Regions from separate parts of the Homo sapiens genome. Here regions 1 and 3 are each linked to region 2. The links come from fine-mapping of genetic effects on gene expression. A gene starts in region 2. Each other region holds a variant in brackets. All regions are shown on one strand. Distances are between the middles of the regions.

The links. PIP is the estimated chance that this variant, and not a neighbour inherited with it, causes the effect. A credible set is the group of variants that fine-mapping cannot tell apart.
Region 1: its variant is the best candidate, but not a certain one, in a credible set for the expression of UHMK1 in whole blood (TOPMed, PIP 0.75).
Region 3: its variant is the best candidate, but not a certain one, in a credible set for the expression of UHMK1 in whole blood (INTERVAL, PIP 0.76).

Annotation. Positions count from the first base shown.
Region 1 is chr1:162,409,965-162,412,728 of GRCh38, reverse strand. SH2D1B (SH2 domain containing 1B) reads left to right here and starts at 593. Exons shown (of 4, transcript NM_053282.5): 1 at 593-846. The coding sequence starts at 713. The variant T/G (reference allele first, on the strand shown) is at 1,283.
Region 2 is chr1:162,496,656-162,499,419 of GRCh38, reverse strand. UHMK1 (U2AF homology motif kinase 1) reads right to left here and starts at 1,602. Exons shown (of 8, transcript NM_175866.5): 1 at 1,152-1,602. The coding sequence starts at 1,419. RefSeq lists enhancers at 865-1,365, 1,552-1,631, 1,366-1,866.
Region 3 is chr1:162,585,283-162,588,046 of GRCh38, reverse strand. It overlaps UAP1 (UDP-N-acetylglucosamine pyrophosphorylase 1), which reads right to left. Exons shown (of 11, transcript NM_001324116.5): 6 at 379-572. Among named protein-coding and RNA genes, the nearest start is that of UAP1, 25 kb to the right of the region's middle. The variant A/C (reference allele first, on the strand shown) is at 1,302.

The sequences.
Region 1 (2,764 bases), 87 kb after region 2:
ACCTACACCAGCCCTTTCTCCAAAAGGAACAATGCTTGAGGGTGTTCAAATGGCCTTTTTTCACCAGTGGCTGGGAGCCTTAGCCATGGAATGGGCTGTCCTCATCCACAGTGTCCCACTGTTTTTTATTGCCATTAATGTCTTCCATTTTTAGTGTCATTTGATCCACGGAAATCCCACCCTTTCAATTTTCCCATTGTATCTGAGCATATCAATTCTCTCAGCATCCAAATGGTTTTTGAGCACCCAGTCTAAGCTAAGCATAGCCCAATCCTAGGCAACTTCAGCAGAAAATGGGTACCATTACAGCAAAAGCAGCGGTGTGCTTCCTGGAAAGGATACCAGTAGCCAAAGAAGTTGATGATAGTCCATGGTAATATACAAGGCTGCAACACAGTTCCAGGAAGCTTGACTTCAGCATTGCCTCCCTAGCCATGAGCATCACTGATTCCATTGTGTGTTTAAATGTGCTTTACCTACTTCTGTGAGTCACATGTGGGCCATTTAGAGGGTGAAAAGTGTTGGTCATTTTATCACCCCGCCCTCCTCATTTCCTGAATCTTGTGAAGCTGGCTGAGTCCCACAGACCGCTAGAGGAAGAGGTAGCTCCACAGGAGGTACAGCTGCTTACACATCTCTCCTCAGAGCTGTCCCTTGACTTGGGGGTGAATTTCAGGCCAACAGGGCTTCCTGGGATACAAGAGCGTTCTCCATGGATCTGCCTTACTACCATGGACGTCTGACCAAGCAAGACTGTGAGACCTTGCTGCTCAAGGAAGGGGTGGATGGCAACTTTCTTTTAAGAGACAGCGAGTCGATACCAGGAGTCCTGTGCCTCTGTGTCTCGTGAGTAGCCTCATCTTGCACACATCTGACATCGTATGTTGAATGTGGCAATGGCTGCCACACAGTACAGGAATTCATATCCCTCAGTATTTCACTCTGACTTTGGAGTCTCAATGAGTAGAATGAGAAGTAATGGACACTGCCAGGAGAGGAATGTATCTGTCCATGCTCCTCCATCTGCCTGCTCTCCCTGGTGTAAAGGCCCTGCAAGCAGACTCTGCAGCAGCAGGAGGGACATGGTGGTGGTGAAGGGAAGGGCTGCAGGAAGTACAGGGGTACAGAGGGATGGAAAGAAGGTACAAATGTCAGAGGTCCTGTCCTCCAGAGATCTGTTTATTTGGTATGGAAAAGGCTAGGGGTTCTTCAAGAAATTTCAATCTGAAACACTTATTCTGCAGCATCTGCTTGCAATACGTAAACTATAAATACAATCATA[T/G]TTCACATTTTGTTAGATTTGTGAAGGACTTCAATATTCGTCATTTCCTTTCATCCTAGTAGTCTATCAAGGCAAGCATAAGCAGTCACCATTTCATAGGTAAAGAAACAGAGACCTGAATTTCTCAAATAATTTGTTTGTGTTAAAACTCATTTGGAATTTCCAGAGTCTAAGTTAAACATGAAATTCCAGGCTGGGCATGGTGGCTCATGCCTGTAATCCCAACACTTTGGGAGGCTGAGGCAGGTGAATCACTTGAGGTCAGGAGTTTGAGACCAGCCTGGCCAACACGGCAAAACCCCATCTCTACCAAAAATACAAAAATTAACCTGGTGTGGTGGCGTGTGCCTGTAATACTGGCTACTTGAGAGGCTGAGACAGGAGAATCACTTGAACCCAGGAGGCAGAGGCTGCAGTGAGCTGAGATTGCACCACTGCACTCCAGCCTGGGCAATAGAGTGAGACTCTGTCCAAAAAAAAGAAAAAAGAGTGGCTGGGCACAGTGGCTCACTCCTGTAATCCCAGCACTTTGGGAAGCGGAGGCAGGTGAATCACCTGAGGTCGGGAGTTCGAGACCAGCCTGACCAACACGAAGAAACCCCGTCTCTACTAAAAATACAAAATTAGCCAGGTGTGGTGGCGTATGCTTGTAATCCCAGCTATTTGGGAGGCTGAGGCAGGAGAATCACTTGAACCCGGGTGGTGGAGGTTGCAGTGAGCTGAGATTGTGCCATTGCACTCCAGCCTGGGCAACAAGAGCAAAACTCCATCTCAAAAAAAAAAAAAAAAAGAAAAAGAAAAACAAATTCCAGGCCACAGTATCAAAGAGACCTAGCTGAAGGAACTTGTTTATGCCCAGTTTAGAAAGCAATCCTGAACAGAAATCACTAGAAACCTCCTATCTTTATGTATGTTCCTCTTTGTAAAGTAGGGACCACTGAACCTTTTATTATACCTGTAACAGAAATTAAAATCCAAATGTCTCTTGTTAAAGAAAAAAATTACTCAATGTCACTTGTTAAATTATGGTTGGGAAGACTTTATTCAGGATCATCACAAAGGTACAGGGACCACTGCAATGAGCTCTTGCGGCACAGAAAAGAGACTGGACTCAACTCTGAATCCAGCATGGACAAGTGGGAATTTATGGCCAAGGAGCAGTGTGGCTGTCGGTAGACAGAAAATTACTCGGAGGAAACATCAGGGGTAAAGTGGATTCTGGCTAAACCAGCCTAACAGAATTGTAGCTGAAGACAGGCCCGGGTGATCAGATGTTGCCTGGGGGATGGTGGAGGATGAGGAATCTGATCAGAATCCAACAGTGATCAGATAGCTAGGGTGAGGGGTCCTTGCCAAACTGACTTAGTAGGGTTCTTTGCTAAAACTGGATTTTACAAGGAAGTACACAAATGGGCCTTGGAATAGGCTCAGAAGTCTGATTATAGACAAAAGTGATTGTCATTACTAATAGAATACACAGGG
Region 2 (2,764 bases):
CGAGGCAGGAGGACTGCTTGAGCCCAGGAGTTTGGAGACCAGCCTGGGTAACAAAAGGGGACCTCTTCTCTACAAAAAATTAGCCAGGCTTGGTGCTACGTGCCTGTAGTCCCAGCTACCTGGGAGGCTGAGGTAGGAGCATGGCTTTAGGAGGAATTGGAGGCTGGAGTGAACTGTGATCTCGCCATTGTACTCCAGCCTGGGTGACAGAGTAAGAACTTGTCTCAAAAAAAAAAACTAAAACAAAAATAAACAGCTCTCTATAATCTAAATACTAACAAAGAGATTAAGACTTTTCGGATGAAATTTTAATCTTGCAGAGATCAGGCAAGTCCCTAGGCTTGCAAAATTTTTCCCTTTTCAATACCAAGGTTATAGTAACAGACCATTTAGTAAACTAAAAAAATGTAGCACTAGTGTTAATTCTTCTCCAAAATGATATTATAAAAAAACTCACTCTTCAAATTAACTATGCATCATACTTGCTAGGAAATAAGACTTTTCTTTAATAACCAAAGCTATAACTAATGATAAGCTTTCTGTCGTGTAATGAAAATGAAACCTTTTCACAGATCAATCATCAGTGATCATTACATATCTTACATTCTGAGTATCTGATTCTTGAAACAGTCTCAAGAGAGCAAAGGTATAGTGTTCCTAAATTTCACACTTCTATAAAGGCTCCCATGGAATAGTGCATCATTTCTTCCAAATCCGTACTAAAGATATAATAGGTGAGCTATACGAGTTACTAGCATTGATGTCACAAGGCCCAGACGTAGTTCCCATTTTCTACTGGTATGCAAAGATTCAAAAATTTCCACACAAGACACGACAATCTAGCAAAGACATGCCTCCTCTCACTAGAAAAGATATTTCTGTATGCTAATGAATGCGGCATTCTCCGATGAGACTCGAAGCAAGACAATTTACTGAGCATCTATGTGACACCTGGCAAAGCAGACCACCAACTCCACTATACCGCAGACAGTAATAAAGTGAAAGGGGAAAGGGGCCTGGATGGGGTGATAAAGAGGGCTAAACCCGCTTCTCCCGCAGAAGGGGAGGAAGATGGAACGCCAGACAGCGAGAGGAAGAGTGTGCTCGGACTGTGACCTGGGCAAGAAGAGAAAGGAGACAGCGGCAATTACCGATGTTTCTGTGACCCTGCAACTGTTCCAGCGCCGCCCTCTCTTTGCGGAAACCATACTCGGCGGCAGAGGCCGCAGCCCCGGTGGTTCCTGGCGGCAAGAACTGCTTGAGGGCGCCGGGGGGCGAGCCAGGGTTGCCGCAGCAGCGAACCCGATACACCGAGGCGGAGGAGCCGCTACCCAGACGGCTCTGTACCTGCCACAGCCGCCCGAAGGCCTCCAGAAAACGCGGCGGCTCCGCGCCCCAGGCGCAGCCGGATCCCGCCATCGGTGTGGGTTAAGGGCACGGACACGGGAGCTGACGCGACGCCTGAGGCAGGCCGGCCGGGCCCGCGGTCACATCTCCGCCAGCCGGACCAGCGGCTCCGCAGGGAGGGACCTGCAGCCGCCTCACCGACTCCCGGGACTTCAAGCAGCCATGACACCGGAAGCCGTGGTGCACCCGAGTCCCAGAAGCCGGAAATGGAGGAAGAGCCTATCATACAGGCCGAAGGAGGGGGGGCTCAGAAGGGGCGGGGCCTAGAAGAGATTAGACGCGCTAGGTTTGGAAAAAAGAACCGAGAATAAGAAGTAACCTTAATTATTGAGTATCTACCATTCCAGGCCCAGTGTTAACCGCTTTCACATAGACCTGAAGCCAAAACTGGTCCTTTTTCTTGTTGAGGCACCTCACCTTACCTCACCACTAGGAACCCGAAAAATAAAACCCGGCCTACATTTCTCATAGAAAGGATCCCAAGGAAAACACCCCAGGAACAAAAAGAGAGTTTACCATCACCTCCAGGTCCACGGTCACCAGAACCCATGATTCTGGAAGCCTAGACCTTTGTTCTTCTTTTAGATGTAAACCGAAAATACAATTCTAAGCCCCCCGTGTCGCCAACCATCGGAATGGACTTTCTCCCAGGCCAGGGCACTCTAAAATTCTGGTTCAGTCCATGACGGGAAGTGGGGGTCCGACTAGCCTCATACCTCTCCGGTTAAGGTCAACACAGACCTTCGGTCTGGTAAGAAACATTTACAATCTATTTTCTTGGAAGCCTGGTACCTGGAGGCTTCATCTGCATGACAAAACTTTGGTCTCCACAAGTTCTTATGACAACCCAGACATTCCTTTCTATTGATAACTCTTTCAACCAATTGCCAATTAGAAAAATTTTAAATCTACCTATAACCTGGAAGGACCCATTTCTCCCCCCACCAATTCCCGCTTCGAGTTTTCCCACCTTTCTGGGCCAAATCAATGTATTTCTTAAATATATTTGATTGAAGTCTCATGTCTCCCAAAATGTATAAAACCAAGCTGCACCCCAACCACCTTGGGTACATGTTCTCAGGATCTCCTGAGGGCTGTGTCACAGACCATGGTCACTCATAGTTGGCTCAGAATAAATCTCTTCAAATATTTTACAGAGTTTAACTCTTTTTATCAACATAGTCCACCTTGCCTATGGCTCCCTCATCAAAAAGCATTCACCCTGGGCAAACACGGATCTGTTCCAAATTTTTATTTTTCATTTATTTATTCAATTATTTTATTCATTCAGCAAACGTTTATTGAGTAACAAATGTAGCAAATAGGCATCTCAATCCACAAACTCGAGTGTGTAAGA
Region 3 (2,764 bases), 89 kb before region 2:
CCTCCTGAAATTCTAATTCAGTTGGTGTAAGGTGAACATCTGTATTTTTAAAAAGCTCACAGCTGTGGTAAAGAAAGTTTCATTTCTTATGCTTTGCTTCAACAGAACCTAGCACATAGTTGGGGGTGGGAGGGTGAGAAGGGAGAAATGCTTTGGCCTCCCATTAATGCGCTGGGGAATGGGCTCCGATGATTCCCACCTTACAATACATCTTACTAAAAACAATCACAACATGAGATAAATGTCCATTTGATAAGTGATCCTCAGGAAAGATGAATTCTGTGGGATATGGACTTGGGGTGTCTGCATCCCTCTCAAGTGTCTTAGTTTCTGATTAACAATAAATATAATTTTAAAAGGCCCCCATCTTGCCCATACTTGACAACATCTCTCAGAAATGGTACAGTGAAGAAATGGTTGGCAATGTTCCCCGCATTGAACAGCAGTCGTCCGTCTGAGCTTCGTTTTTGAGCTGTTGCCAGGGAAATCTCACTATATTCTACCACCTGGTAAACTCCATCCACTCGGCAAACCACTCCAACTGGTTCTGTAGGGTTCGTTTTCTCTACCACCTGTCCACCAGAGAAAAACAGTAGAGGAGGAAATTGAATTAAATGTTTCTTTGGAGATTTGCCATTGTCAAAGATGACATTTACAACTTTGCTTACACTAAAAGGTATAAAGCCAAGAAGAATCTTTAACTTTAGACAATCAACTATCCATCTTTATATACCTTGACAGGCACTTTCCAACTGGAAATGAGGTATATTATTTCCTTCCTATTTATCACCTAACTAAACCTTGGGCTAGAAATTCCATCATATACATATATCTAGCACAGAGTAAATCACATTGGAGTGGGAATAATTACATCAGGAGTCAACATCCCCCATGTATCTTGTACTTTTTATTTAATTTATCCTTAACCACCTCAATTACTTTCATAATAAATAAAATGAAATTTCTCTGGGATTCACAAGACAAAAGACCTAAGTTAGGCATTTTGTCTCTCATTTTCTATTGCCCGATATTTCATTTGAAAAAAGCATTTCTTTAATTTTGGCATTTTCCTTGTGTTTCAGGGACCTGAGTAGGAGGTAAAGGGGTTTAGAGCAGGCAGGTCACTAGCCTCCCACTCCAACTTTAATTAGAAAACCCACCCATATTTATCTGTTTTGTATACTCAATTTTGTTTGAAATAAGTGATTCTATACTTCAAAAAAATAATTCTGAAAACCAGTGATGTGATAATTTATCAATGGCTCTGGGCTGATGGGGAGCTGAGAAAAGAGGGTATACTA[A/C]AATCAGAGGGAAAATTAAGAATATGTAATTTTTAAAAACCTCACAAGTGATTTTGGTATGCCACCACACTAATCCCACACATCACTGACTTAAGTGTTTAGAAGAAAATTATAAAAGAACTATATGCAATGCACTAATATAAAATCAAGGTTCAGATAAGATAAATATCCAACCGAAGAAACAAACAATAAAAAATATTTGTCAACCTAGGCAACAAGGTGAAACCCTGGCTTCTATTTAAAAAATAAAAAAATTAGCCAGGCGTGGTGGCATGCTGGAGTCTCAGCTACTAGGGAGACTGAGGAAAGAGGATCACCTGAGTCTGGGGAGGTTGAGGCTACAGTGAAACGTGATTGCACCACTGCACTCCACTCGAGCCTGGGCAACAGAGTAAGACCCTGTCTCAAAAATCCCTATCTATTTGAAGGTATTGTTTTGTTTGTCCAGTCTAATTATCAATTCAGCATGCTTCAAAATATGTTTAAAACTCTGTCCCCAATTTGACAAGTCTATCCTAAGTAGACATGAAATTATATTAATAAAGTTAAGACTTTTCTTCAACAACTGATTTCTTAAAATAAATACAGTCAGTAACAGTCTCATCCAGAAAACTAAAGCCACTATTGAGAACTTCATTTACACAGCAATTAGAGATATAGGCACTGAGTCCAGCTCAGTGAGGCAGGACTGCTGGATAAGTAAGCCTGTTGTGTGGTTCACTGTTTGCCACCCTGAAAGGAACACAGTTCTTAATGAAAAGAAACTTTCTACCGAGGAAGTAGATTAAACTGAAGGGGAACATTATGCAGCAAATTATTTAAATCAATCATGGGCCTATTTACAATTCTTATCTACCAACCCATCACCATCTCTTACTTCATGTACTCTACCTACAGTGGGTATCTTACTAGGCAGGGAATTTGGGATAGATTCCCCTTATTCTCTCTCTTTTTTTTTTTTAACGCACACAGGTTTATTTTCCAGTCACCACTATATACTCCTACTCCCAACCAGCCATAAAAATAAAAATATACATATTCACATTTTACATTTCCCAAAGGTTTACTTCTATGGCAACTATTAACCTCTAAATATTTTAAAAGTCTACATTACAGAAGAAAGCATTTGTAAACTGAATGAAGTGGGAATCCATTTATATTATACAGAAAAGATATAAAGTATAGAACGGGCGTGGTAGCTCACACCTATAATCTCAGCACTTTGGGAGGCTGAGGTGGGTGTATCATCTGAGGTCAGGAGTTCAAGACCAGCCTGGCCAACATGGTGAAACCCCATCTCTACTGAAAATTAAAAAAAAAAATTAGCCAGGCATGGTGGTAGGCACTGTAATCCCAGCGATTCAGGAGGCTGAGGCAGCAGAATCACTTGAACCTGGGAGGCAGAGATTGCAGTGAGCCAAGATTGCGCCATTGCGCTCCAGCTGGGGCAACAAGAGAAAGAC